6 separate regions of the Homo sapiens genome follow, and all the other regions are linked to region 3. Evidence: fine-mapped expression QTL. A gene starts in region 3. Each other region holds a variant in brackets. All regions are shown on one strand. Distances are between the middles of the regions.

Region 1 (5,222 bases), 23 kb before region 3:
GCAAAGCTTGTCATTTCTCTGTACTCACAAGACTCACAGACTGTAATTAGAAGGCACTCAGTGTGGTCTGATGCCGTTATAAAAGATAACATTATATTTTAAATCACAAAAAGGCCAATATAAATATGTTACTAGTAGATTCCAGTTTTTAAATCTAAAAGACACACCAAACATTCTGCTTCCATCAATGAATACAAACAAGTAAACACAAAAAGTGAAAGGCATTTAATTAGCATATTTAACCATTCTCACTAATAAGAGATGAGTCACCTTTATTCCAATTACTTCTTCCAAAATTATGAAGGCCTTTTATTGGGCATTTTCCCGAATAATTTCTCACTCAATTTGTAGTACATACTGAAATCTATTCCAGTTTCTTGAAAGTCAAAGATTGAGAGGAAAATTGATTATCCATTGCTGAGTATCTTGGTTGTACACAATTTTAAAACTATATACCTTTTAAATAACCAACAAGAAAACAAGGAAGAGAAGAAAGAACAAAATAAGGTATAAATAAACCTAAATATACCAACAATCATAAGTTGACTATAAGTTAAAAAAAAGTTTATAAAACTGGAAAAAGATTCATTATATACTATTTTAAAAAGATACACCCAAATATACGGATAAACAGATATTTTAAAAGGGTGAAAAAAAATTAGAGTAGGTAATGCTAAATAAAAGAAAGTTTATATATCAAAATCAGACAAAACAGATAAAGGCACAAGTACTACCGGAGGTGGAGGTCCCCTCATGATAAAAATGTTGGCTTCATTCTGATGGCATATTCTACACTTAACAGAACATAACAATTCTATACTTAAATGCATCTGATAATATAAACTCAAAATAAAAGGACAGAGTACACAGAGAAAACAAGAAGTCACTGCAACATTTGAAAACTATAATATCCCTTTCTCCATGACTGATTCTAACCTCATACAAACTCTTCCAGAGTACAAAAAAGTGGAACACCTTCCAACTCATTTTCTGAGGCTAGACCAACCTTGCTATCAAAGCCAGACAATGACAGTACAAGAGAAGAAAATTACAGGGCAATTTCACTTTGTTATCATAAATATCAAAGTCTTAAATGAAGTATCAACAAACCCAACAGAACAATGTACAGATGATTTTAGGGGGGTGAAACTATTCTGTATGATACTGTGATGGTGGATACATGTCATTTACATTTGTCAAAACTCAATGAACACACAACACCAAGAGTGAATCCTAAGGTAAACTATGAACTTTGGGTGATAATGATGTGACAATGTAGGTACAATTGTAACAACTGTATCACTGTGGTGCAAGATGTCCACAGTGGGGGAGGGGGTAAAGGTTTGTGTGTGTGTACGCGTAACAGAGAACTTTATACATTTTCTACTAAATTTTGCCATGAACCTAAAAGTGCTCTAAAAAATACAAACTTTATTAACTTGGAAAAAAGAGTACTTCATGACCAAGTTGGGTTGATCCCAACAATGTAAGATTTACCATTAATGGTTTAGCATTAACAAGAGTATTAATGCAATTCATGGAATTCACTGAATAAGCAAACTAAAAGAAAAAAAATCTTAATGAATGCAGAACAAATAGTTGATAAAATTCAATACTTAAACTCATAATAAAAGTTCTTACTAAAGTAGAAATAGAGAATTTCCTTCACCTGGAAATGATACCTTCCAAAAATCTTCATCAGATATCATTCTTAGTGGTAAAAATTAGAATCCTTCATTTTTACATCAGAGCTGTAGTTGCTTCTATCACTGTACTGGCAATACTAGCCAGCAATATAAAGAAATGTAAGGACTGGAATGGAAAAAGATTAAAGTACTGGAAAGGAATTAAAAACAACAAAAAAAAAAACAAAAAACCTGTGTTAATTTACAGAAGACTGACATAATTTTATTAAAATTAAGAACTCTGTTCGTCAAAAGATCTCTTGGAATGTGAAGGTAAGCTACAATGTAGGAGAGTAAATTTGCCACACATATTATGGATAAAAGATTATAATAAAGAAATTCCCAAAATCAAATGCATGTACTTTACAACTTCAATTACACTCCTATTTACAGATCCTAGAGAAGCTCTTTGACATAAAAAAAATGTTCTTATTTTAAGCTGAGTATCATGTGCAGTGCTTATTCATCTTATTTTCCCTTATGTCTGACAAATGTTATATTCATTTGGCATTTAATTAAATTGTCATAATTAAAGAAATAAAACATACTCAAAGATTTTAATTATTACCATCATATATAAGTAGTATATAAAAAATATCATTGGACCCCAAGTTCGTACTACTGCTACCTGCATAAAACAAACTGACCTGCATTGCATGGGCAATTTATATTATACAGATTATTTTAACCTGCCTTGCTCTTTTCAAAGAAACAAATCTGACGAAAGACT[A/G]AAGACAAGAAAGTAATTGCTATTAATTATTCTTCATGTACAGTCTCTATCTATGAGCCTAGAGTCAAAAGCTTTTCCTAAATTATTTCCAGGTGTTTCTGAGAATTTGTAAAATCTTCCACTGTTGTCCTGCTTACTTTGTTGCCTATTAGGCAACTTTGTGGTTTAAAGATTATGAAGTTTTGGTCTGGTTCATCACACAGTTTGAACTTTCAAAATGACTAACAGCAAAAAAGATTAAATATTTACATTAAAATATCTACTGCTAATACCAATGTAAAAAAAATGTGGCCGGGCGCGGTGGCTCACGCCTGTAATCCCAGCACTTTGGGAGGCCAAGGAGGGTGGATCACGACGTCAGGAGATCGAGACCATCCTGGCTAACATGCTGAAACCCTGTCTCTACTAAAAGTACAAAAAATTAGCCGGGCGTGGTGGCAGGCGCCTGTAGTCCCAGCTACTCGGGAGGCTGAGGCAGGAGAATGGCATGAACTCTGGAGGTGGAGCTTGCAGTGAGCCGAGATCGTGTCACTACACTCCAGCCTGGGTGACAGTGCAAGACCCTGTCTCAAAAAAAAAAAAAAAAAAAAGTATGACCAAAAAATAGAAAATGCTAACCTGAAAATCTTGATCCTTGAATTTTTTTTTTAAGTCCAGGTTCCAGGCTTAGATCTTTGAATTTTACACTTGACAACAGTATTACTTAAATTAAATCACTGTCCTTTAGTATTTGCATATATCATTAATGTTTTCCATCTCTAAAGAGTTTACATTTGGAAAATGTCATTTCTAATAAAAAAATACTTAAAATATTCTGAAAAACCATAGTGAAAATATGGAAGCTGCTAATGACTATGTATCTGCTTAGTATGTAAGCTATTAAGAGTTCACAATCTACCTACCCAAATACCCTTTAAGGAGCACAGGCAGAACCCACAAATTCCTGGGCTGACCACCACTCTTGGCCAAATGAGTCACGGCCTCTGTAAGTCCCAGGGTCACCTTTCTCTAGGAGTCTACTGAAACTAAATTCAGCAAACCTCTCAATGCCCAAATTAACTTTATCTCCAATTCCTCTCTCAATCCATCTACTGACCTGGCATTAACCCTACAAGGCTTTGTTTTTTCCATCCCTGACCTAGTCTACAGTCCACCTTCTATCTTACAAATTTAACTACCTATGGAAATGGTGCTCCATAATTAGCAAACTCCTCTATACCCTCAACCTCTTTTCAAAGCATTACCTCAGTACCTTGGCTGTTAAGGACTTTCTCCCATCAGCTGTCCTACTGCATTCTCTCAAAGAACAGATATTTATTCCCCATTCCCCCAAGGTCCTTCAACTACCTGAGCCATCCATTCTCTTAATCCCAGAACCTTGTCATACCCATAACCTGGCACATCTAAAATCATGACTTCAATGATCACACTGCAACACCAAATCTCCAACCTTGCAGTATACATGTTTAACTACTTCCCTGTGGGAGTTCTCTGGTCTTGGAAGAATCTCTATCCCAATCTATCAGATCACTTTTTGCTCTACTTCCCTCCTTCCCAGCCTGAAGTCTAACAGTTCAACATTTCAACAAATCTATCATACCCTAACTCTCCTGCTCATCTGTCTTTCACTGGATTAATCTAGAAAAACCCTTTGTGGCTTCAAGCTTTCATTCTCCTTGAGCTCCTACTGACCACGGCCCTCCCTCAAGATTCCATAAATACCCAACAAGTGTCTGCAATGCACCAGTGACATAGCATTTAAACACACTGTATTTTAACAAACTGCTGACTTGTTTATTACAAAATATTTATTACAAATGTTCAACAGATATTTATTGAGCATTTCCTAAGAACAGAAAGGCACTATTCTTAACTGTGAGAATTTAGCAGCAAAGAGGGTCAGAGGAGGTCCCCACTCTTGTGAGGCTCATATCACAAGGCAGAAAAAGAAAACACGTAAGTGAATAAGAATTTTAACCAGTGATAAGTGCCACAGGGAAAACAAAACAGGGTAACATGACAGCAAGTGCTTGGTCAGTGGGTTTTGGGTGTGGGCAGAACAGGGGAGGTCATCTACTTGAAAGACTTCTCAGAAGCACACTGAGACCTAAGATACCTTCCTCCATCCCCCAAAACAGAATCAGTCAGATCTATTTTGGACCTTAAACTGACACAGCCCCAGTGAAAGTACCAAACCAACTAAACAGGGCATCAAAAGAAAAAAACATAATAACTCTATTCTACAGGAGTTAGGAATTAACAGTTTTAATAAAGAGGGTCATCCCACACATGTCCACATAGATTTCTATATAATCTAAGGAGTACATATATGATCAGCAGTGTGTTCAGGATCAAGTGTAATCCCATATTTCAGACTGAAGAACCTAAACTTTAGCTGGGTTCAGTAATTTTTTCAGCATGTACCTTACATGGATTACAAAAATGCCTCCATCTTCCACCTCTCCTTGTATCTACAACCTTGTACAATGTTAGTCTGCAACTCCTCCTATCCAAAGATGGAGTCCATTTCTCCACTTTTTGAATCTGAACTGACCTTGTGACTGCCTTTAGCCAACAGAAAGCAGTAAAAGTGACACTGTCCCAGTTCTGAATCTAGGCCTCAAGAGACCCTTAGGTGCTTCTGCTCACTCGGGTGGATGCCTGTCTTCATCAATCACAGCAAGCCTGGGCCTAGCAGATGAAGCCGGAACCTATTAGAGGAAGAGTCATTCCCATCATCCTGGATAAGGCCATGCTAGACCTGCCAAGATCAGCAAAGCCTCTTACCTGACTAGGTGATCTCAGAT
Region 2 (5,222 bases), 49 kb before region 3:
TAAATTTAAGTTCCTTTACAATCTAAGCAGAATTCAATTCTAATTCATACCAGTACTGGTCTGTGGCTATCCAATGTGCTATAGTCTTCCATTTCGTTATACCTAGTTCAGGTCATCTCAAGTAAATAGTGAAATATTACTATAGAGTTCTTTTTAATCTGATATTTTCCATTATATTAGAGAATCAAAATTGATTTTTTTTTTTTTTTACAATTTCAACTATCTGCCTATCCATGTGAAACATATAAAACTTTAGAATGGTGGTTCTGAATGCTGACTGTGCACTGTGGAGTTCTTTAAAAACAGATCCCCAGGCTCCACACCAGAGGTGTCTGACTTGGGTCTCGGGTGAGCTTAGGCTTGAAGCTGTGGCTGATGTTTTTTAGGAGCCGTAGGTGCATATAAAGCACAGTCTCAGGAATCGGCTTTGGAATACAGTTTAAAAAAAAAAAAACACTATATTTTTCAAAGATATATATTTTTTAAATATTTATATTACTTCTATAACAAACAATTCAGTTTTAAAAACTCATATGACCAACATATTTTAAATCACCATTGTATTGCATGGGTCTTTAGAAATATAATTGCAACAATCACTGTCAATTTTTTTGGCCAAATAATTAGTCATCATATTGGTGAATTTCTAAAATATGCTTGCAGATGTAAAATTATTTGTGCATCAAAAATAATAACAAGGTGCCTTTTAAATACCATTAATCCACAGTATCTGACAAAATTGTTCCCTATCTGCTTATTGCCAATTTAGAACTTCCTGGATTCAACCACAAGGCAAATCCCCCTACATTTTTATTATTTTTCTGTGTGAAGTACCCCAGATTTCATATGCCTCAGCCCTGAGGATGACTCCCCTCATGGGTTAAATAGAGGGGTTTTCTGCTGGGCCTGCAAAACAGTCTTGAGAATGAAAATACCCTTGATTACTGTCAAATGACCTAGTCTTTCAGAGTAAAAATTTAAATCCCAACAGTGATTTAAAGTCTATATTCAGCTGTTAATCCCTTTATAGACTCAAAGAGCAGACACGCACAATAAACCTCTAAGCTGACAGTTTGAGATTTGCTTACTACCGCTGGCATTTCCGTGCTCTAAAAAATAATCACCAGCATACTGCACCTTGATACAAGGTACAAAAACTAAGTATCATTAATCATGTGTGTGTTTTGAGAGCAGCCTGAAAGACTTTTGTTTACAAGTCTTTTCATATAAATTTATCCTGTTAGCCAGGCGTGGTGGTGCATGGCACATGCCTGTAGTCCTAGATACTCAGGAAGCTGAGACAGGAGGATATCTTGAGTCTAGGAGTTGAAGTCCGGCCTGGGAAATATAGCGAGACCCTTTCTCTTTAAAAAATATTTTTCTAATTTTTTTTCAGTGTCTCTAATTTTTAGCTAAAAAAGGTTATTATTGTGTGTCTTTACAAATGAGAGGCTAACTTTCAGCTACTTAATTAACTCACCTGTAATTACTGCAATAAACCCACCTCTCCCCCATATACCAGGGAAAAATTTACGCTCTAAACATTTATATTTAACTAACACTTCACTGTTTTAGTTTTTTCTTTTTTGAGACGGAGTTTATCTCCTGTTGCCCAGGCTGGAGTCCAACGGTGCAGTCTTGGCTCACCGCAGCCTCTGCCTCCCGGGTTCAAGCGATTCTCCTGCCTCAGCCTCCCGAGTAGCTGAGATTACAGGTATGTGCCACCACGCCAGGCTAATTTTGTTATTTGTTAGTAAAGACGGGCTTTCGCTCCATGTTGGTAAGGCTGGTCTCAAACTCCTGACCTCAGGTGATCTGCCTGCCTCAGCCTCCCAAAGTGCTGGGATTACAGGTGTGAGCCACCACGCCCGGCCAACACTTCATTCTTTTGTTCAATTGTTTTTTCAGGTTCCCCTCCAGTCCTTAGCCTTATGCATAAATTCATAAAACTGAGATCACAGTGTGACACAACTGTTTCTTCTGTTTCAATATAAATAATACATACTGTTAAACAGAGGCCCTAACAACAACCTATGGGATCAAAAATGGAATAATAAAAAGAGCATTAAACAATTGTTATATAAAGCAGCCAATTTCACATTTTAAAAAACTGCAACTGAAAAACTTATTTCCCAGTGCAAAGGAATTAAATGTCTCGCATAAAAACATAATGTAATCATGTATGACTCAGGAATTTCTGAAAGAGGTAATGTGCATCTGCAATGAAAATAAAACAAATGCAGAATCTCTCCTCCTTTACCCTAAGCACTTGGTTTCTAATCCCAAGTAGAATAAACCAACTAGGACATACATGATTTCTAGGTTTCAACAAATTAGACTGATATATCCAACAGCACTCCACCAGCCACTATAAATATTTCTACTTCTACTACTTTGTGTTTTGAGAGTTGTTTGTTTTTTATTTTTGTTGTTGTTTTAAAGAAATCAATCCACAGACATCACTGCATATTAGCCCACAACTCCTCTGTAGAGATTAAGGAAACTAACGCCCAGTAAGGCAGACTAAGGACACAATAAAAGCAATGAAGTCATGAGCCGAATCTC[A/G]GTTTTGCCATTTTCTGCCCAGGACAGATCTCTATCAACCAGAAAAATCCTGGATCTCTCACTAGAAAGAGGTAAGCAGGTTCTCAAAAGCTACGGAGTATTATCATTCTACATTTTCCCAACACTGTCATATTTTAACTTATTTCATTTTATCAATGTTATTACTTCAATCATGAAAACTAAGGATAAAATTAACTACCTACTTGGAAAACTGCACGCTCCACTTCGTGTAGCTGCAATGCTGCACCTGTCTCTCTAACTTGTGACTTCTTTTATTTTCTACAAAATTATGCTGGCATAATCCCTGAATATGCTACTGTCTTTAATGATGGGATCAGTTTGATGTTTCAGCGATGTCTCCTGCATTTACCTAGGGAATAATGAATTCTGAACAAAATATAATGTACAAGAGAAAAATCAAACCAATTTCTGTGTTGTACTCATTTATAAATATGTGGCTTGCTACCAGTGAATGCATCCTCAGTTTTTTTCACGTCACAGCACACAAAGGAAATGACAATACTTGGGCAGCACACTGGAATAATAGACCAAGGAGATTTCTGAAACGTGGGTGGGGGTGAGTGCTCAATGGTTCCAGAAACCTAATCACAGCACACCAGGAGCCGTGGAAGTTGTGTGCAGGAGTATGAAGATGATGACACTAACATCACAGCCTTAACTGCCATAAGGAACAGTATGCTCAATTTCAAAGCTAGAGTTTACATTTCCACAGTGAACTCACAGAGCTATCCAATTAGTCACACAGAAGCTGATCATCAGCACTGGCTACATCACAGAAAAGTAATCATGGCAGAAAATATTCCTACCACTAGAAAGCCAAATCAAGTATTTTTGAGTAGGGAAATCACCTCTTACTGATCCGTAGAATTAAAAATGCACCTATAAATTATAACTTATTGAAGTAAATAAATACATAGCACAGGCCTGATTATCCTCAACTATAAACTGGAAATGGGGCATAAAGGAAACCACTACTTGGGCATGCCATAGTTCAAACAGGCTCCAGGTCAACTCTTGGTGTGCTTTAAAATTATTATGATCATTTGAGCAACATTACCAAAAGAAGAGCACAAAACTTCTTCCCGAAGGACAACACGGCACTGTGGGTGTATTAGATGTGTTGCAGTGGGAACTGATCCAAAGGCTTTGACCCTTTCAAAATGAAACTCGTCTGCATAACAACTGCTTAGCCTCCCTCATCCTTAGTTTCCCTATCTATCAAATGAAATATCATCTTCCTTATATGTTCTGTTATGAGGATTACAGATAATACATGAAATCTGGTTTCTACCACGTGTCTGGTAGTCATATGCACTCAAAAAGAATAATTGTAATCACTAGTACTATTTTGTACTGTATTTTTAACACATCATTAATTATCACATCTCTATGTTCAATATTTTTAAAAGCTACATAAATAACAATGTATCGTATTCTTGGAAACTGATAAGAGACATTTTAGGTGTTCTTACCACAAAAACAAAAGATAAATATGTGGGCCCTGCGTGGTGGCTCACACCTGTAATTCCAGTACTTTGGGAGGCCAAGATGGGTAGATCACGAGGTCAGGAGATCAAGACCATCCTGGCCAACATGGTGAAACCCTGTCTCCACTAAAAATACAAAAATTAGCTGGGTGTGGTGGTGCGTGCCTGTAATCCCAGCTACTCAGGAGGCCGAGGCGGGAGAGAGACTCGCTTGAACCAGGGAGTCAGAGGTTCCAGTGAGCCAAGATCGTGCCACTCCACTCCAGCCTGGCGACAGAGTGAGACTCTGTCTCAAAAGAAAAAAAGATAAATATGTGAGGTAATGCATATGCTAATGAGATTGATCTGGCCATTCCACAGTGTATACATATTTCAAAACATTATGTAGCATATGATATATATATTATTTGTCAATTTAAGTAAATACAGAAAGTTAAAAAAAATGCCTTATGTCTCAAAATAAGAAGGTGATTTCCTCTTCAGTTTTCTTTCCTATACCTAAGCTTCTATCAAGGAAAACACTTCAGTTTGGTACAAGACTTAATACCTTTACAACACTTGCTAATCTCTGTTAATGAAGAGAAAGGCAGGCATGGTGGCTCACGCCTATAGTCCCAGCTACTTAGGAAGCTGAAGCTGGAGGACTGCTTGAGTCCAAAAGTTCCGGGCTGCAGCATGCTATGCTGATAGCGTGTCCGTACTAAGTTCAGCATCAATATGCTGAACTCCTGGGAGCGGGAGACCACCAGATTGCTTAAGGAGTGGTGAACTGGCCCAGACTGGAAACAGAGCAGGTCAAAACTCCTGTGCTGATCTGATCACTAGAGGGATTGTGCCCGCGAACAGCACTACACTCCAGCCTCGGCATATAATAAGGCTCCATCTTAAAAAAAAAAAAAATTACTTATCTACTTTATTTATTTTAAATAATAGAGACAGAGGGAGGGAGGAAGACAGAGGGAGGGAGGAAGGTGGGGGGGGGACAGAGAGAGAGAGAGAGAGTGTCTGGAGAACTCCCTCCAAAGCTATACAACATTGTATCTTGTTATCTCATGGTTTAATAAAATAAGTCAATTGTTAGACATTTGTGTTATATTCACTTCTCACTATTTTGAAGGTTATTTAATTTTTTTTAACATCTAGACCCAG
Region 3 (5,222 bases):
TTGAAAAACAGCAATTCAAATTTAGAGCCACCAGAAAAGTAACCATAATATTAGAGATTATCTGACCTGAGCACACACTGTAATATATTAGGGTGGAGAGGAACTATGTTCTGGCACCCAAGAAAGCAAAGGGAAGCCTTCTCATCCCAGGTGGAACACTCATGAATGACTAGCAAAAAAAAAAGCTGGGTATAACAGGCAACGCCTGCCTCTTCTTGGGTATATTGTGTCTATTTAAGACCGTATTTTTCAGCTACACAAATGAATCCATCTAGGAAGTGTCACCAAAAAGAAGGCAGAACTTCCTAACTACTTAATTAATGGAAAAGAAATGACACCGAATACTTCCGTGTGTGTTTCTAAAAATTTGACTAAGAGACGTGAAGTTTCAAGTAGTAAAGTTGGGGATGATTCAGGTGAACAATGGTCATTATGTGCTACATATTATTATTAATGACAAGTTGTTTGGATTTCATCAAAATGCCTCTTGGAAGTAAAAACAACCGATGTGTGTACAAAACCAGAGTCCAAGCAAAGTAAAACCAAACCAGAAAAAAAAAAAAGTGAAATCACATAAAAGAATAAAATTTTTCTGTGGCGTGAATGTTACCAAATCTGTGGGGTTAACTAGGACACTTATTTATATCACTCATAATTCCATAGGATAATTAGTCTAAATAATTTAAATGTCATATCGTCTTTCATGAAATAAATCTATCATTATCCATAAAAGCAAAGAGGCCATCAAAGTTGGAATATGCGTGTAAAACACCAGAAAGGTATATTGAAGCAAAAGCCTGCACCGGGGAATTGAGAAACATGATAGTGTATTAGTCAGAAATGCCTTAAAAATGTAAGCTCATCATGCTTGCTACACCAGCCTTTCCTTTCTTCCTCCACCTTTTTGCAAATTTGGAGACATTAGTCACTTCAGTGAACTCCAGCATTTCACAGAGAGGCAGGTTTGTTCAATATCCTGGCAACTTTAACAGATTCACGGAATGTCAGAGTCCGAGAGAATGTACCCCAGAGGCCAGCTCTGAGGACTGCTGAAACTGGCCTCGCCTTCGACCCAAACTGCTCTCAAGCCTTTCCAATCACCAGGACTAGAGGCAGGCCAGTAAGAGAACACATGTTACATTTCAAAGACAAACAAGTCACGAATGTAAACAAAGAATGATAAAAGAAACCCAGACCAGTACAGAAACTACGAGGAGCCTTTTCCAGCTCCACTCACACTTAGCATTCAAACAAGCTCCCAAAGCCACCCGAGAGAGCCGCTTCCCCACGGACTCCCTCCAAACAGGGCCCGGGTGCCCCCATACGGGACACCCCCTCGCACGCCCACCGCCTCCTGGCAGTCTGTGCAACCTCCGTGCGGCTGGCGGGGACTTTAGATCCGGATCGCCAGCAACTGAGGCTGCGAACGCCTCCTCCGGCTCCGGCTGCTCCTCCCGTGGCAGGAGGGAACGCGCCAAGCGTTTCCCGAGCCGTTCCCTGTCACAGAGAGGATCGCAGCACCCCCGAACTCCTCTCCTCCTCCTCCTCCTCCTTCATCAGCCACCTACCCACAAGTCCCACCTAGGAGGAGGAAGCTGCACGGCAGGAGGCAGCGCTCCTGGGAGGAGGGGGAGGATGTGGTTACGTTATCCCGGCGGGCGATCGGGGTCCGGGGCTGCAGGGAGGGGAGTGGGTAAGGACTGCCTGAAGATTGCTGGGGGGCAAGACGGCAGCTGGGGGTCACCGGGGAGTGAGTAGCGGCCGCGGAGGAAAAACTCAGGACTCCAGGTTTCAGGGAGGGGAGCGTCGCCACTCTAGGGTCGCGAGGGTCGTCTAGGCTGGGATGGGGGGAGAAGGCGCAGGAAGAGGGCGCCGTCTCCAAGTGCTGATGAAAGGCTGAGGAGAAAGAGGCGCCCCGAGACTGGAGAGAACTCCCGGCGGCGGAGTCCCCGTGGCCCCTCTACCTGCGGCCGCTCCCGCCCGGCCTCCGCCCCGCCTCGCCGCCTCCCGGGGCCCGCGGCGCGGGGCAGGTTGCGGGGAGCCGGGCGGCCCGGGCTCTGCCGCCTCCTCCAGGCGGAGCCCAACTCCGTTTGGGCCCGGCGTTACCTGTGCTCTGCCGCCGGTGTCCGGTGACCACCGCCTCGCCGGTGACGGGGTGCAGCCAGGTGGTGCTCTTGGCCTCCTCGCTGCAGGGGTGAGAGAAGGGGCAGACACGGAGCGTGAGAGGGGACGCGGGGGCGAGCCGAGGGGCTGCAGGAGCACAGACCCGGGCTCTCCCCCGTGTCGCCAGCCGCCCGCCTCCTGCCCTCCCGCCCCCGCGGGCCCCCGTGCCGTCCCCGGCTCTTTACTTGATGAAGAAGACTCGGCCGCCCCTGGTGATCCCGTAAGTCCAGGACCGGGGCAGGGAGATCCACTCCAGGTTCAGATCCGCCGCCATGTCTGATCCCTAGCCGCCGCCGCCGCCTTCTCCTGCTGCCGCCGCGGCTGCCGAGGGAGGAGGGAACGAGCGAGCGAAGGGAGCGCGGAGCGAGCGCGCCTCCCCGGCCCGGCGCGCCCCCGCGCGCGCCCTACCCCCTCGGGCGGTGCCCGCCCCGCCGCCCCGGCAGGGTCCGGCCCCCGTCGCCGCCCCTCCGCATCCCGGCGGCCGCCGGCCGGCCGCCCCGCCGCGCGCTCGGGGGATGGGCAAGCGGCGCCGCGCCCCAGACCCCTCCCTCGGGCCCCTGCGGCGCGCCCGCCCCCTCCGCCGCGCGAAGGTTCCGGGATCGATTAAAAAAAAAAAAAAAAAAAAAAAAAAACGCGTCCTGCCCCCAGGGCTTTGCCCGAAGGCTTCCCATCCCAGGGCGCGATCAAAGGGAGCCTAATAATGCCCAAGCCCCTGATTTCTCTCTTTCAAACAACAAAAACACAGCGTCTGAGCTTTGTTTTATAAGAGCTGTTGGAGAGCCAACAGATTTTTCCAATATATTTATCGTTTTAAAATGGAAAGCTGTTTTTATTAAAGCACACGAAAGGCCTTTCCTGTTTGTTTGTTGTGTGCCAGATATCAAAGGTTGGACGTGATACGTGGCCCCATGAAATATGAGTGGATTTAGACTTGACAAAACAAGTTTTTTCTCTTCCTAGGCCCCTTAGGTCATATCTTATAAAATAAAAACTCGTCTTTTTCTGGTACTTGTTTTTAAAGATTCACTTAACATCAGTGTGGATTTTTACTTGCCCTGTCTCCAATAGATTACAATAATAGCTTATTTTATGGAGTCCTTGTGACGGTGTACATTTTTAAATCTTCACAACAACTATATATATATGTGTGTATATATATATATGTGTGTGTGTGTGTGTATATATACACACACACACACAATCTATAAAAAATCCCCATTTTACAGATAGGAAAAATGAAGTTTAAAAACACAGTAGTTTGCCCAGTCATAGTAATAACTGCCAAAGCCTGGATTCAAACTGGCTGTAGGATTTCAAAAGTATATTTGTATAACCTCCTTGCTGTACAAGCCCACTTTGTTTTACTGCGATTCACTTTATTGCTGTTTGCAGATCTTTCACATCTTACAAATTGAAGGTTTGTGGCAACTCTGCATTAAGCAAGTCCTAGCACCGTTTTTCAACAGCATTTGCTCACTACATGTCTCTGTGGCACATTTTGGTAATTCTTGCAATCTTTCAAACTTTTTCATTATTGTACCTGTTATAGTGATCTGTAATCAGTGATCTTTGATGTTACTGTTGAAATTGTTTTGAGGGCACCATGAACTGAGCCCATGTAAGACAGGGACTTAATAAATGTGTGTGTTCTGACTGCTCCACCAACCAGCTGTTCCTCTGTCTCTCTGCTTCATCTTGGGCCTCCATATTCCCTGAAATGAAACACTAATAATTGTCTAATAATAATGGCCTAATATTGAAATTAGGCCAACCAGTAACCCTACAATGCCCTTTAAGTGACCAAGTGAAAGGAAGAGTTGCATGTCCCTTACTTTAAATGAAAAGCTAGAAACGATTAAGCTCAGATGTATCAACAGCCAAGAGAGGCCAAAAGCTCGGCCTTGTGTCAAATAATTAGACAAGTTGGGAATGCAAAGGAAATGTTCTTGAAGGAAATTGAAAATGCTACTCTGGTGAAAACATGAATTATAAGAAAACAAAACAGCCTCATTGCAGATAGGGAGAAAATTTTAGTGGTCTGGGGAGAAGATCAACCTAGCTACAACATTCCCTTTAGCCAAAGCCTAATCCAGAGCAAGGCTCTAACTCTCTTCAATCTTATGAAGGTTGAGAGAGCTGAGGAAGCTGCAGAAGAAAAGGTTGAAGCTATCAGGGATTTAAGGAAAAACACCATCTCCGTAACATAATAGTGCAAGATGAAGCAGCAAATGATGTAGAAGCTGCAGCAAGTTATCCAGAAAATCTAGTCAAGATCATTGAAGGTGGATACACTAAACATATTTTCAATGTAGACAAAACAGCCTACTATTGAAAGAAGATGCCATCTAGGACTTTCACTGCTAGAGAGGAAAAGTCAATGCCTGGCTTCAAAGCTTCAAAGGGCAGGCTGACTTTTTTGTTAGGAGATAATGCAGCTGGTGATTTTAGGTTGAAGCCAATTCTCATTGACCATTCCAAAAATTCTAAGACCCTTAAAAATTATGCTAAATATACTCTTCCTGTGCTCTATAAATGGAACAACAAAGCCTAGATGACAGCACATCTGTCATGGCTGACTGAACATTTTAAGTCTGCTGTTGAGACCTACTGCTCAAAAAAAAAAAAAAAAAAAGAAAAGAAAAAGTGATTCCTTTCAAAATATTTCTGTTCATTGACAGTGTACCTGTTTACCCAAGAGTTCTCCTGGAGACATACAAGAGATTAGTGTTGTTTTCATGTTGGCTAACCCAACATGCATTCCACAGTTCATGGATCAAGGAGTCATTGTGACTTTCAAGTCTTATTATGTAGAAAGTACATTTCATAAGGCTATAGCTGCCAGAGATAGGGGGTCCTTGGATGGATCTGGAAAAAGTAAATTGAAAAAATTCATAATTCTAGATGCCATCAAGGACATTTGTGACTTAAGGAAGGAAGCCAAAAGATCAACATTATCAAGAGTTTGGAAGAAGTTGATTCCAACCCTCATGGATGAGTTTGAGGGGTTCAAGACTTCAGTGGAGGCAGTAACTAGAAATATGGAAATAGCAAGAGAACTA
Region 4 (5,222 bases), 63 kb after region 3:
TCCTTAGCAACAATCTAATTTACTGTAAGATGCTTTATATATTGCTATTATTCCTAAAAATTCTTTAATTTCTTAACATTTCAAATTATATAAGTTTGTATTTAGTTGCAAGTGACAGAAAACCCACAGGAGCTTAAACAATATAAACTTTTATTTCATACATATAAATGAAGTCCACAGGAAAGCAAGCTGAAATGGCATGGCATCTTTATAATTTTCAAGAATGCAGCGGCTTCTCTTCAGCTCTATTCCTATTCCCAGGCCGCCTTCTGATCCAAGAAGGCTGCTCAAGTTCCAGCCATCAAGTTCATATTCCAGACAGCAAGGTGAAGAACAAGATGAAGGAAGTCACATCTCTTCTCTTCCCAGAAGTTGCACACAATTCTTTTGCTTGTCTTATTGGCCAGAAATTATTCACATAATTACACTAGCAAGGAAAGTTAGAAACTTAGACTGTATTCTTGGAATTCTCCAGGTATCTATATTTGCTGTCAAAAATAATGGATTTTATAATGTTAATATACTATTAGAGAAGAACAGCTGTTGGTGTAAACAATTGATAGTCTTTGCCACAAATTCCAAAGAAACTACATTCTTGTCACTACCTAGCCTTTCAATGAGATATTTTATTCCTTCTTCTAAGTTCTTACAATAAAAATATGATTGTTAACAAAGACACCATAGATATTATCTCTTAAATTAAAGTTCTGAGTTATTTTTAGTTACAGCTGGCAAGCTGCCAAAAGGAAAAAGGGAGAGGGACTGAAGTTTCTAATATGGATGTCAATTCTCAGTGGAATTATCCAGCTCTACTACCTTCCAAGTTGATCCTGAGAACGGATTCCAGGGACAGCCATTACTTTATCTTTACTACTATAATATGTTAATTTCAGTATATGAGTTCTTGAAAGACTTCAGAGAAGAGAACATTTCCTGTTACGAATAAATGGTTACAAGTTGAATTAACCCACAGACATTGATGGTTGTCATGATCATTAACCTGTAATCAAGGTTATCCAAGATCTGTTCCCAATTTACCTTTCTAGGTCTGTCTCCCACTACTCTTTTTCACGTATCTTTATAAAATTTATAACATGCTGAAAAAATGTCAAGTATTATAGATGACTTTCTTAAACAAACTAGATTAATTGTGCCACCCAAATATATCCTGTATCTTACTTTTTTGCCTATGCTTGAGTCATCTCAGTAGAGTGACCCACGTCATACCTACTATAAGTTTATCCATTAGTTTAAGACTGAAACCAAAATCTTTCTTAAGAAAGTCTCTCTAGAATCCCATAATCAGAAGTGATTTCTCTCAAAAGTCCAATACAACTGTATATTATATTCCCTCCTTCCTTTATTCATTCATAATTAATATTTATTGAAACCTATTTTGTGTCACTGTGCTAGGTTTCATTTATAGTCTAATGGAAGGCATTAATCAAATAACATATTCCTTATGTATAGACCATGACCTATCTCACATTATACTGCTACTGTTCATCTTGCTTACTTCCCCAAGCACTGAAAACAAATGGAAAAGCTGTGTTTTATCGTGTGCCTACCCTTCTGACACCTAGTAATGTGCCTTGCATTGTTAGTTAAATGTTCAGCAGCAATATTCGATGAATATTTCATTTATTGCCTTACTCTTCACCCCGGGGGAAGCAATTCAGAGGACATATGTTACCATTAACTGCTGTAGAAAAATTCATTTGAAATTGAAACACGCATTTAAAAATATATACATGTGTCTTCATAACTGGAGTGTTGAGGATGGAGAAGAACCTATAAGATGAAAATCCAGCGTGTTTGCCTTATTAGAAATGCAAATGTCTACTAAAATATGATTATGAGAATATGAGGTGTCCAGTGTCCAGACGTGCAAAAATCACACAGATAAAAGCAAATCTCTCTCTAATCTTTCTTTGCTTTGTGTAATTAAAAGACAGAAAGCAAACTACGCTTTCTAAATAAATGATATTCAGTCAGTTTTAGAAATGTTTGCATCCTGCTACAATCACCGCTATAATAGGTTTTCTAGGCTCTGCAGCCTTTTCCTTGTTTCCTGCTTATTCAGGCTTCAGATCTGTGGAGTGGATCATAATTAGGAATCTACTGGTTCTTTCCCCAACTCTGATTCAATTAGCCATATGTTACAGGCAGCAAACACAGTGGCTGTCAAACTTTAGCAATTACCAAGCGGGG[G/T]GGGGAGGGGAGAAAGGTTTGTGGGGTCAAAACTATGAACTTATAAAAAGCTCTTGAAGTAAAGGCAAATCTTAATAGTGGAGCATTAATCAGAATTTTGTCTGGCCATTCATTAATCATCTCACACGGACCAGCTCTGGAAAGAGCAGCCTTTCATACACGTGGGACAGAAGTGTTGAGCTCTCAGAGCAAAGGTATCAGAAAAGGCAATGAGTAAATATGCAATTCTGTTTACATTCTTCATTCCAACAGTGAAGAAAAATCAATAGGCTTACAGAATATGGCAATTGTCCTTTGAAATGAAGGCTTTCTGAAAGGTAGTTTTTCTAGCTCATAAGGGCTGATTCCAAATAAATGATTTACTCTTTGTGGAGTGCTACATGCTTAATGAGGGCTGTTCTGGGTAAGACTGGAAGTGGAAAATCCTTGGAGGGTCACTGTTAAATTCATTTTATCGAAAAGGCAGAACATTCAAATTTAAACATTTGACATTCAAAGCTGTGTTAGTTCAGAACTTCTCTGCTACATGCTGATTTGTTAGAGAAAGGGGGTTGGAAGTCCTGGGGTAGATAACATTTAAAAAAATAGTTGAAAGAAAATGAGCATTGAAGCATGTCATTCTTGAGGAAAAACTCACATAATTAGGTAGGCTTTGTGAAGAAATCTACTGCTTTAAAAAGAAAAAACCTATTAATTTTTTGGCTAACCTACCCATTCATGCTCTTCTCCATAGAAGGAGGAACTGAGTTACAATACAGCCACACTCCATTTAAAATAACATTTATTCAATAGCAGGTCTGCCTCGTAGGCAGGCTTACCTCCTCATAGAAAAGGCCTATTATAAATCCCAGTAATTTTCCCATGAGTTCTACAAAGAGTGTTTCTTTGTGGTGGGTTTGAGTACTTTATCCACTATAATTTAAATGTCTCAAATGATGTCACTTCAAACTGTTTCCCTCAGGAGGTTGCTCTAGTCTGAAAAAATCTTCATTAAGATATTTCTCTAGTATTTAACCTGGAATTTATTTATCTGTCATCCGAAATAGGTCGTTTCCCCACCAGCTTTAACCACTGAACTTTGTTCAAGAAGCGAGTGTGCTCTAGCATAAGAAAGGTTGTTATCTTTTCTTCATAAAATAAGTGACTTTTAGCTCAACTGTATTGAGTGCATTAAAATTCCCATTTGATTTATTTTGCTCTAGGTATGTATCCATGTCTGTGGACACTAGTTGAGATTTTGGTCCAGGAAAAGCTGAGGTTTGGTTGGGGGAGGGTGAAGGTGAGTGGAGAGGATTTTAAAGTGTAAACTTTTACTCTCTCATATCAAATAGAAATTTTAAAAAAATATCGAGAGGGTAAACATTCACCTAGTGGAAAAGAAACTGAAGAAATCAATGAAGCCACGGAATATAGGTGTGACCTTTAGACTTTTTTCTTTTTGAGGTTAACAAAGTGGAAAAGCATCTTGCTAAGAAGTCAGGGTACAAATTTCTGACCCCTTTAAGAACATCTACTGTAACACTTTAGCTTTAAGTACTTCTACTTATTTATTTATTTAATGACTGCATCTTACCCTGTCACCCAGACTGGAGTGCAGTGGCACTATCAAAGCTTACTGCAGCAAACTCCTGGGCTCAAGTGATCCTCCTGCCTCAGCCTCTCCAGTAGCTCAGACTACAGGCCTGTAGTGGCCTAATAATTTATCATCACTCCTGGCTAATTAAAAAAAAACCCCTTTTTTTTTTCTTTTTGTAGAGACAGGGCCTCTCTAAGTTGCCCAGGATGGTCTTGAACTCCTGGGCTAAATGCTTCTTCCTCCTCAGCCTCCCAAGTAGCTAAGACTTCTGCATTGATTTTAATAGCTTAATTGGAATGACAAGGGAAGTGAGGGTTGCCAGAGCCAACACGTTAAATGCCTGTCTTGGGTGGCAGGCAGCTCCATGGTGAAGAGAGAACTCACTGGGCTCCATTGCCCCTTCCTGTGATGGGCTACCACACAGGATGAGGATCTTTGCTGCTAAGTCTCTCATCTGTTTCAAGTGTGTGTGCATATTGACAGTTCTCCTAAGGAAAGCAGAGCACTCCTATGGAGGTCCTAGAGGGTACATACAGCAGCTGATGATAACGTTTTTTTTTTCTACTAGGAGAGTTTTAATTAAAACTACATGTGGTTTGAGATGTTTGCTGTTCTTTCTCTTCTGAAAATCCTTACAATTCATTTTGCATAAAAAGAAAAATTCTAAAGTCTTTCATTTAAATAGTGAGATGATAGCTTCAGTAAGAATTGCTGTGTTGGGCTTTCATATATGGTTACTGAAAGCACAATGCAAAGGCCAGGACTGAATTTAACAGGCCATTTGCCGCAAGTAGCAGTATCACTGGATACCACCAACAGGTTCATGTTGAAGGTTTTTAAAAAAGCTTTTAAATTTTGCAATTAAAACATATACAGGCCAAGTGCAGTGGCTCATGCCTATAATCCCAGCACTTTTTGGGAGGCCGAGGTGGGTGGATCATTTGAGGTCAGGAGTTTGAGACCAGCCTGGCCAACACGGTGAAACCCCGCCTCTACTAAAAATACAAAAATTAGCCGGGCGTGGTGGCAGGTGCCTGTAATCCTAGCTACTTGGAAGGCTGAGGCAGGAGAATCACTTGAACCCGGGAGGCAGAGGTTGCAGTGAGCTGAGATCATGCCACTGCACTCCAGCATGGGCGACAGAGTGAGACTCCGTCTGAAAAAAAAAAAAAAACAAAACCAAAAAACCAAAAACGTATGGCCTAATAATTTATCATAAGGCATGTAACCACCACCCAGATCAAGAAATAAAATCTTCATTGCAGCGCTATTCACAATAGGAAAGACATGGACTCAACCTAAATGCCCATCAACGACAGATTGGATAAAGAAAAATGTGGTACATATACACCATGGAATACTATGCAGCCATAAAAAGAACAAGATCCACTTTGGGAGGCTGAGGCAGGCAAATCACGAGGTCAAGAGAGCGAGA
Region 5 (5,222 bases), 47 kb after region 3:
GGTGGTGGCTACTTGTCAGCCTGGGTCCCAGAGTGAGGAGACCAGATCACCACAGCAGACTCTTAACTGGCATACAGTAGAAGCAAGGGGGAAATCTTGATTGTTTTAAGTGCTGAGTTTTGGGGCTGTTTGTTATCATAGCATAACCAAACTTATACTGACAGCTATGCCAAATGTATTTTTAAAACTGGAAAATAAAGTCTTCACTGCTTAGAAGAAAGAGAAGTAGGTCAGAACCAGAGTCTAGTTAGTGGCTAGCCATGTCAGAGCAGAGAAGGCAAGGACCCAGAGGCCGGGCAGATACACCAAGTTGGCACAGATGGTCAGGGAGGTGTGAGCTACAGAATGAGTCACCAGGAAAGTCATGGAACAGCCTCAGTAATTGAGACTTAATGGTAAGGAGGCCCGATGTGACCTAGTCTTTGAAGACAGGCCCCAAACCTGGGGATGTGGTCATAAAGAACAATGCTTATTTTCTAGAACAATGCTTGCTCATTGTCCAAGCAGATTAGATGATAAACCCACTGGCACAGAGCTTATTAAATAATCTCTGACTAGGGATATCTTTAATTTTGGATTAGGGGTGGGGCTGAATCTACAGATGAAAAATAAATGGCTCAAAATAAGAAGAGTAGTGGAAGGGAGCCAAGTGAGTCATTACAAATGGAAGACTTTGTGAATGGTTCTAGGGAAAAGAAGAATAGATTTTGAAATAAATGTTAGAACACCGAGTTTCTATTGGTTTTACACCTGTTAACTCTAAGACAGAAATGATTTAGCTTTGACATGGTTGTGCTTCTTTCTTAAACTGTAGGGTACTTGGTCATATGTTCTGGCTAGAGGTCTCTTCATGAACTCTAGTTGCACTCCTACACGCTTGATGGAATTGGGCTGACTTGACAAAACAAGGCCATTTATGGAGCAGTTGTGAAGGCATATGTATTCGATTTCTAGGGCTGCCATAATGAAGTACTACAAATGAGGTGGCTTAGACAAAAGAATTTTATTGTCTCCCAGTTCTGGAACCTCACAGCCAAGATCAAGTTGTCAATAGGGTGTTGAGGACTAGCTGAGGACCGTGAGAAAGAATCTATTTCATGCCTTTCCTCTATCTTCTGTTTTTCTTCTGGTAATTTTTAGTGTTCTTTATCTTGTAGAAGCATCACCCTGATCTCTGCCTTCTTCTTCACGTGGCCTTCTCACTGTGTTTATGTGACCCCAAGTTTCCGCTTTTTATAAGAACACTCATCATATTGGATTAGGGGCATATTCTATTCCAGTATGATCTCATATTAATTAATTACACATTCAAATACCCTATTACTAAATAAGGTTACATGCTAGAGTACTGAGAGTTAGGACTTCAGTGGATGAATTTTAGGGGAACACAATATAACCAATAGCATCATGCATTAAAGGAGAAGTTGTTTCTCTCACCATACCTATCTGTTCCCATTTTTTTTTCTTTTACCTGGCCTCTTACAGAAGTATTTACAGACTTTCCTGGGCTGCAAGCTTTTTTGAGGTCCGATACTACACTTTTAAAATCTGTCCAGCTCTTAGCCGGGTGCGGTGGCTCATGCCTGTAATCCCAGCACTTTGGGAGGCCAAGGTGGGTGGATCACCTGAGGTCGGGAGTGCGAGACCAGCCTGACCAACATGGAGAAATCCCATCTATACTAAAAATACAAAACTAGCTAGGCATGGTGGCGCACACCTGTAATCCCAGCTTCCCAGCTACTGGGGAGGCTGAGGCAGGAGAATCGCTTGAACCTGGGAGGCAGAGGTTGCGGTGAGCCAAGATTGCGCCATTGCACTCCAGCCTGGCAACAAGAGTGAAATTCCATCTCAAAAAAAAAAAAAAAAAAAAAAGAAAAAGAAAAAAAGAAAAGGAAAACTCTGTCCATCTCCTGACAGGAATTATTAAAAAGTAAGGTCATCATATCTCACCTGAACTGGTGACTGCAATAGCTTTCTGACTTCTCTCTCTGCTTCCTCCCTTTTTGGTTTACCCATTGTGATTCATCCTGAACAAAAGTTTTCCCTCTTTAAAAAATGTCCTTCACCAAGTGGTCCACCTGGAAAGCTGCCATTCACCCTTCTACTCTCAGATCAAGCACTACTATCTCCAATGCCTTCGATGACATTCCCAGGCAAAATCATGTAACTGATTCCTCTTTGCTTCCATGTAATACTGTGCATACCCTGTGGCAACCAGTAGGCACTCAATAAATGTTGGAATGAGTATCTGAATTAATGAAAGGAATAATTTATAAGGCAAATCCTATAAAGTAATTTTAGGGAATATTTTCCTCTTTCTGTTTGTACTGCTAAATTAAATGGATCATGCTTTAGAATAGTCTTCTCATGTTTGTATCACTTGTAACTCTGAAGAAGTACCCATACATTTTTAAAAATGTAATTCATAAACAACACTGCATCAATATAAAATGTACAACTTTTTATCAGGCTAAGAAAAAAAAAA[AC/C]TATAGGGTCCTTGAATCTTCTTTAAAATAATGATAGGTCTTCTACTACCATTATCAATATATCTACCCAGAAATGCTATTAGCATCACTTGACAAATCAGAAAACTTCATCTCCACAGAAAGGCCCTGGAATGTAACCACTCCTTAACAATCTAGGCCATGATGATCAGGCGTCAACTCTTTGGGTTAGGCACATGAAAGGAGGTGGATGACAATCAAATTGACAGAGTGGACTAAGACAGTGAGTAGAGCAATTCAAGGACGTGCTGAAAGCAATTTGAAAAACTCCCTATAGCAGAGTCATTAGGGACAAGTAGGAAACTATCGCTGCCAACAGAGTCAAATTGCAGATCTTGAGGTTTAGATGGTGAAAAAGTGGATTATCTCACCTATGAGAAATACTGACAGCAAAGTCTAGGGGCAGCCAAGTCTTCCACCCTCTAGCTGCTACCTACTCTTATGCCACTGCTTTTCATACACGCCTCTCCAAAACATCATCTCCATTTGCGGTTCACATTTTCAATTCCCTTTTACTTTCATTCATTCCACTTCAGTCTGGCTTCTATCACAACAATGAAAATGAAAGTGTTTTTCTAGGTCGCTGCTGGCCTCTTACCTGCCAGAACTCACGATGCTTTTCTGTCTTTAACTCAGTCTTCTGTTGTGGTCCACATTGATGATGAAGACTTGAAACTCTCTGCCAGGCCTGGTGGCTCACGCCTGTGACCCCAGCACTTTGGGAGGCCAAGGCAGGCAAATCACCTAAGGTCAGGAGTTCAAGACCACCCTGGCCAAATGGCGAAACTCTGTCTCTACTAAAAATATAAAAATTGGCCGGGCATGGTGGTGGGCGCCTGTAGTCTCAGGTACTCAGGAGGCTGAGGCAGGAGAATCACTTGAACTCAGGAGGCACAGGTTGCAGTGAGCTGAGATTGTGCCACAGCACACTCCAGCCTGGGTGACAGAGTGAGACTCTGTCTCAAAAAAAAAAAAAAAAAAAAAAAACCCAACAAAAACTCTTTCTTTCTCAGTGTCCTCATAGTCCTTTACCATTCTCCATTTCCATCATGGGTTTCTGTCTTTCTACTGATGCTGTAAATGTTGGTGGCCCCACCAAATCCACTGGTCTTCTCACTCTCGTTATCCCATCCCTTCCTGGGTAGTTATATCAGCACCGATTTCTGCTATTATACCTGCTCATGACTTCTCCAAATTTCAGAGTTTATATCCTACTGATAGTCTTTACCTGAAGGTTTCACAGGCACCTGAAACTCAACCTGTCTAAAATAAACTCCATACCCTCATCTATGATTTAAATGGTTGGTGACATTAACAGTCTTCCAGTCACCCATGCCAAGGGCTTGGGAATCACCTTGGACTACCTCTTTCTCAGTCTCTCAATCTCATCACTCACCAGTGCTACTGATCGTAATTTCTAAACTTTTCTTGAATTTGTCCCCTCCTCTTGTCTATCATCACTGACTTAATTCAGGCCTTCATCCTCTGTGATCTGGAATTCTGAAAAGAATTCCAACCCCTCCTCTTGTTTCTAGTTTTATCTTTTTAAATTGGTCCTTCACAGAGAGGCCAGTTATCTAACTAAAACACAAGTCCAAACATGTTGTGTCCTGCTTGATGCCCACAAGGGGCTTGAATTCCTACATGGGAGTCCTTGAGGGTTGAGCAGCCAGAGCATCCAAAGAAGACTCAAGGGCTCAAGAAATGACTACTAGCAATCTCACTATTCTAGCAACCTGTGCAGTTATACTGGTAGATACCTGCTATGCACAGTATAATGTTTCTCACCTGCACCTTTACTTATGCTCTGCTCTAACTGCAACCTGGCTAACTTCCAGGCATCCTATAAAATAAACTCAGGGGTCTCTTCCTCCATAAAATCCTCCTGTCACTTCCCCCAAATACCTTGTCTCTATATCTTCTAAATACTGCATGAAAGTATCTGTCTGTCTTTGCATTTTCCACATTAGTTCCACCCCTTGTGGACAGGGACTATGGCACAAAGCCAAGTTGTACAGAATCAAGGCTCTGATATAGGAAAGCCTTGATACATGCATGGTGAAGGTTATTGTGAAGGCGGTCGTTGGTTGAGTGCTTGGAAGGATCTGGAACCTAGATAAGTAATTCTTTATTTTCACTGCCTCATGTTCAACTGCAATTTTTTCATATGTATATGAAAGCAAAAGAAAGGAAGAAAGTCACAAAGGGCTGTCTGAGGCACATGATTGTGAAGAGTTAAAGGGAAAATCCATTCTTCTGCTTTGTGAGAGCTCTCAAGCTAAAGTAAATGAGCCTTTAGAAGCCAAACATGCAGCTAACAAAGGTGAGCTCATGGAGAAGCCTATGAACAGTTGTTGGTCCTGTGGGTCCACAGTCAAGTGTCTGGGGCTATTGTTGGCAAGCAAGACCAAACTAGAGGAAAAATATGTCTATGGGCATGCAGTGATGGTGCTGGGGGAGAAGTAGGAGGAGAAGTGAACAAATAAGGGTTTCATTTAGGAAGATCAAGAGATGACAGCCTTCTTAGGTATCTAAGCAAATAGCCCCCAAAGAGAATTTAAAACATTAGATTCTAAGGGCTAGAGAGTTTTTTTGGGCAAAATAATTAAATCACTGAAAAATAAGAAAGAAAGAAAGAAAACTCTTGAGGATTGCCTGTCTTGCAATCACGTGTACATCTCTTTTTTTTTTTTTTTGGGACAGGGTCTCACTCTGTCA
Region 6 (5,222 bases), 350 kb before region 3:
GGTAAAGGGGTGGAAAAAGATACTCCATGCAAATAGAAACCAAAAGCAAGCAGGCATAGCTATTATTATATCAAATATAACAGACTTTAAAGCAACAATAGTAAAAAAAAAAAAAAAAAAAAAAAAAAAAAAACCCACAAAGAGGTGACATTAAATAATAATAAAAGAATTAGTCCAACAGGAAAATAACAATCCTAAATATATATGCACCCAACTGGAGCTCCCAAATTTATAAAATAATTACTAAACCTAAGAAATAGGATAGACAGCAACACAATAAACACAGTAAAATAATAATAATCCTAGCAACATAATTATGTAATAATAATTGTATCCTGACTTCAGATAACCTGATGACTGTGTGCCTAGGTGATGATCTTTTTGTGATGAATTTCTCAGCTGTTCTTTGAGCTTCTTGTATTTGGATATCTACATCTCTAGCAAGGCCAGGGAAGTTTTCCTCAGTTATTCCCCTCAAGTAAGTTTTCCAAATAATAGTGGGGGACTTCAATACTCCACTGACAGCATTAGACAGGTCATCAAGACCGAAAGTCAACAAAGAAATAATGGATTTAAACTACACCCTGTAACAAATTAACTTAACAAGTATTTACAGAACATTCTACCAAAAACTGCAGAATATACTTTTTTTTGAGGCCCGTCACCCTGGTTAAAGTGCAGTGGCACAATCTTGGCTCATGGCAATCTCTGCCTCCCAGGCTCAGGCAATCCTCCCACTTCAGCCTCCCGCATAGCTAGGACTACAAGTGTGCACCACCATGTTCAACTAATTCTTTTATTTTTTGTTGAGACAAGGTTTTGCCATGTTGCCCAGGCTGGTCTCAAACTCCTGAGCTAAAGCAATCCACCTGCTTCGGCCTCCCAAAGTGCGAGACCTACCATGCCTGGCCAGGATATACATTATTTTCATCAGGACATGGATAGACCAAGATAGACCATATGATAGGTCACAAAACAAGTCTCTATAAATTTTTTAAAAAATCTAAATTATATCAAGTATCCTATCAGACCACAGTGGAATGAAACTGGAAATTAACTCCAAAAGGAACCCTCAAAACTACACAAACACATGGAAATTAAATAATCTGCTCCTGAATGATCCTTGAGTCAACAATGAAATCAAGGTGGAAATTAAAAAATTATTTGAACAATAATAGTGTCACAACTTATCAAAACCAGTGGGCAACAGCAAAAGCGGTGCTAAGAGGAAAAGTTCATAGCATTAAATGCCTACATCAAATGCCAGGCAAGGTGGTTGACGTCTATAATTCCAGCACTTTAGGAGGCCTAGGCAGGTGGATCACCTGAGGTCAGGAGTTTGAGACCAGCCTGGGCAACATGGTGAAACCCTGTAAAAATACAAAACTTAGCTGGGTGTGGTGGCCCACACCTGTAATCTCAGCTTACTTGGGAGGCTGAGACAGGAGACTCACTTGAACCCAGGAAGCAGAGGTTGCAGTGAGCTGAGATCATGCCACTGCACTCCAGCCTGGGCGACAGAGTGAGACTCTGTCTCAAAAAAAAAGAAAAGTCTGAAAGGTCACAAATAGGCAATCTAAGGTCATACCTCAAGGAACTAGAGAAACAAGAAAGAACAAACAAAACCCAAACCCAGTAGAAGAAAAGAAATAACAAAGACCAGAGTGGTGCTAAATGAAACCAAAAGAACAACAACAATACAAAAGGTAAATGAACAAGCTGGTTCTTTGAAAAGACAAAAGTGACAGACCATTAGTGAAACTAACCAAGAAAAGAAGAACGATATCTAAATAAGCCCAATTAGAAACAAAACAAAAGATATTACAACCAATACCACAGAAATACAAAAGATCATTCAAGGCTACTATGAACACCTTTACATGCACGAAGTAGAAAATGTAGAGGAGAGGATAAACTCTGGGAAATACACGACCCTTCTGGGACCAGTTGGATTCACAGCTGAACTCTATCAGACATTCAAAGAAAAACTGGTGCCAATCTTAATGTAACTATTCCAAAAGACAGAGAAAGAGGGAATCCTCCCTAAGTCATTCTATGAAGCCAGTATCACCCTAATACCAAAATCAGGAAAGGACATAACAAAAAAATAAATCTACAGACCAATATCCCTGATAACAGATGCAAACATCCTCAACAAAATACTAGCTAACCGAATCCAACAGCCTATCAAAAAGATAATCCACCATGATCAAGTGGGTTTCATACCATGGATGCAGAGATGGTTTAACATACACAAGTCAGTAAATGTGATGTATCACATAAAAAGAACTGAAAATCATGTGATCTCAATAGATGCAGAAAAAGCATATAACAAAAAAATCCAGCATCCCTTTATGATTAAAACCCTCAACAAAACTGGCACAGAAGTAACATACCTTAACGTA[A/G]TAAACAAACCCACAGCCCATATTCTACTGAACGGGGAAAAGTTGAAAGCATTCCCCGTGACAACTGGAAGAAGACAAGGATGGTCCACCCTCACCACTTCCATTCAACATAAGTACTAGAAGTCCTAGCCAGAGCAATCAGAGAAAAGAAATAAAGGACATCCGAATAGGTAAGAGGAAATAAAACTGTCGCTGTTTGCTGACGATATGATCATATACCTAGGAAACCCTAAAGACTCATCCAAAAAGCTTGTAATCTGATAAATTCAGTAAACTTTCAGGATACAAAAATCAACGTAAATTAATAACACTGCTCTACACCAACAATGACGAAGTTGAGAAACAACTAAAGAACTTAACCCCTATTACAAAAGCTACAAAAAAATAAAATACTTAGGAATATACCTAACCAAGGAGGTGAAAGACCTCTACAAGGAAAACTACAAAACACTGCTGAAAGAAATCATCGACAACACCAACAAATGAAAACACATCCCATGCTCATGGATGGGTAGAATTAATATTGTGAATATGACAATACTGCCAAAAGCAATCTACAGATTCAACGCAATTCCCATCAAAGTACCATCATCAATCTTCACAGAACTAGAAACACACTATCCTAAAATTCATATGGAACCGAAAGAGAGCCCAGATAGCCAAAGCAAGACTAAGCAAAAAGAGCAAATCTGGAGGTATCACATTATCTGACTTTTTATACTGCAAGGCTATGCTTACCAAAACAGCATGGTCCTGGAATAAAACAGACACATAGACCAATGTAATAGAGATCCCAGAAATAAAGCCAAATATTGGTGACTCACGCCTGTAATCCCAGCATTTTGGGAGGCTAAGGCGGGCGGATCACTTGAGGTCAGGAGTTCGAGACCAGCCTGACCAACAGGGTGAAGCTCTGTCTCTACTAAAAATTTAAAAATTAGCCAGACATAGTGGCAGCCACCTGTAATCCCAGCTACTCGGGAGTCTGAGGCGGGAGAATTGCTTGAACTCGGGAGGCAGAGGTTGCAGTAAGTCAAGATCACACCACTGCAGTCCAGCCTGGGTGACAGAGCGAGACTCAGTCTCAAAAAAATAAAAACTAAAAACCATAAAGTGGGGAAAGGACACCCTTTGCAACAAATGCTGCTGGGATAACTGCCAAGCCACATGTAGAAGAATGAAACTGGATCCTCATTTCTCACCTTATACAAAAATCAACTCAAGATGGAGCAAAGACTTAAATCTAAGACCTTAAACCATAAAAATTCTGGAAGATAACATTGGAAAAACTCTTCCAGACATTGGCTTAGGCAAAGAGTTTATGACCAAGAACCCTAAAGCAAATGCAATAAGAACAACAACAAACAGATGAAACCTAATTAAACTAAAAAGCTTCTGCACATAAAAAGAAATAATCAGCAGATTATCAGCTTCTGCACATAAAAGAAATAATCAGCAGAATAAACAGACAACCCACAGAATGGGAGAAAATATTTGCAAACTATGCATCCAACAAAGGACTAATGTTCAAAATTGACAAGGCACTCAAAGAAATCAACAAGAAAAAAATAATAATAATCCCATCGAAAAGTGGGCAAATTACATGAATAAGCATTTCTCAAAAGAAGATATACAACACAATACCACCTTATTCCTACAATAATGGCCATAATTTAAAAGGCAAAAAACAACAGATGTTGGCATGGATGTGGTGAAAAGGGAACACTTTTACACTGCTGGTGAGAATATAATACAACCACTATAGAAAACCGTACAGAGATTTCTTAAAGAACTAAAAGTAGAACTACCATTTGATCCTGCAATCCCACTACTGGGATTGTCACTATATGAATGACACTGGGAAAAAGTCATTATATGAATGACTACTGGGAAAAGTCATTATATGAAAAAGACACTTGCACACACAAGTGTGCCCTTCAATCAATAAGTGGATAAAGAAAATGCAGTATATATATATATACACACACATACACACATACATACATACATACCATGGAATACTACTCAAGCCATAAGAAGGAACAAAATATGGCTTTCACAGAAACCTGGATGGAGTTGGAGACCATTATTCTAAGTGAAGTAATTCAGGAAAGGAAAATCAAATATCGTTTTGTTCTCACTTATAATTAGGAGCTAAGCTATGAGCAGGCATAAGAATGATATAATAGACTTTGGGGACTAGGAGGGAAGGGTGGGGGTGGTTAGGTATAAAAGACTACACAGTGGGTACAGTGTACAGTGTACACAGCTCAGGTGACAGGTGCACCAAAATCTCAGAAATCACCACTAAGGAATTTATCCAATGTAACCAAAAACCACCTGTTCCCCAAAAACTATTCAAATTAGGGCCAGGTGTGGTTAATCCCAGCACTTTGGGAGGCCAAGGTGGGCAGATCACGAGGTCAAGAGTCCAAGACCAGCCTGGCCAACATGGTGAAACCCCATCTCTACTAAGAGTATAAAAATTCGCCAGGCGTGATGGCGCATGCCGGTAATCCCAGCTACTCGGGAGGCTGAGGCAGGAGAATCGCTGGAACCCAAGAGGCGGAGGTTGCAGTGAGCCAAGATCATGCCACTGTACCCCAGCCCGGGCAACAGAGCAAGACTCCATCTTGAGGGGGGAAAAAAAAACTATTCAAATTAAAACAAAAAAGCAAGGTACCCATATACAATATAGTATTTCAAGAATGGAAGAAACTTGGTATATAGAAAAACAAGTATATAGAAAAACAAGTAATCTGTGTATTTAAAGCTGCTCTAAAATTAAGTTTGTTTCTTTTTAAAGCAAGGCACAGA

Evidence for each region. PIP is the estimated chance that this variant, and not a neighbour inherited with it, causes the effect.
Region 1: its variant is fine-mapped to the expression of PLEKHA5 in whole blood (TOPMed, PIP above 0.99).
Region 2: its variant is fine-mapped to the expression of PLEKHA5 in whole blood (INTERVAL, PIP above 0.99).
Region 4: its variant is fine-mapped to the expression of PLEKHA5 in blood mononuclear cells (TOPMed, PIP above 0.99).
Region 5: its variant is fine-mapped to the expression of PLEKHA5 in whole blood (TOPMed, PIP above 0.99).
Region 6: its variant is fine-mapped to the expression of PLEKHA5 in whole blood (TOPMed, PIP 0.97).

What each region holds. Positions count from the first base shown.
Region 1 is chr12:19,149,648-19,154,869 of GRCh38, reverse strand. All of the region lies in intron 3 of PLEKHA5 (pleckstrin homology domain containing A5), which reads right to left. Among named protein-coding and RNA genes, the nearest start is that of PLEKHA5, 23 kb to the right of the region's middle. The variant A/G (reference allele first, on the strand shown) is at 2,416.
Region 2 is chr12:19,176,027-19,181,248 of GRCh38, reverse strand. All of the region lies in intron 3 of PLEKHA5 (pleckstrin homology domain containing A5), which reads right to left. It also overlaps the pseudogene RN7SL459P. Among named protein-coding and RNA genes, the nearest start is that of PLEKHA5, 49 kb to the right of the region's middle. The variant A/G (reference allele first, on the strand shown) is at 2,566.
Region 3 is chr12:19,127,015-19,132,236 of GRCh38, reverse strand. It overlaps PLEKHA5 (pleckstrin homology domain containing A5), which reads right to left and starts at 2,504. Exons shown (of 32, transcript NM_001256470.2): 1 at 2,349-2,504; 2 at 2,107-2,186. The coding sequence starts at 2,437.
Region 4 is chr12:19,063,850-19,069,071 of GRCh38, reverse strand. It overlaps LOC107984527 (a long non-coding RNA gene), which reads right to left. Exons shown (of 2, transcript XR_001749033.1): 2 at 134-488. Among named protein-coding and RNA genes, the nearest start is that of PLEKHA5, 63 kb to the left of the region's middle. The variant G/T (reference allele first, on the strand shown) is at 2,212.
Region 5 is chr12:19,080,421-19,085,642 of GRCh38, reverse strand. No RefSeq gene overlaps it. Among named protein-coding and RNA genes, the nearest start is that of PLEKHA5, 47 kb to the left of the region's middle. The variant AC/C (reference allele first, on the strand shown) is at 2,486.
Region 6 is chr12:19,474,629-19,479,850 of GRCh38, reverse strand. All of the region lies in intron 3 of AEBP2 (AE binding protein 2), which reads right to left. Among named protein-coding and RNA genes, the nearest start is that of AEBP2, 38 kb to the right of the region's middle. The variant A/G (reference allele first, on the strand shown) is at 2,406.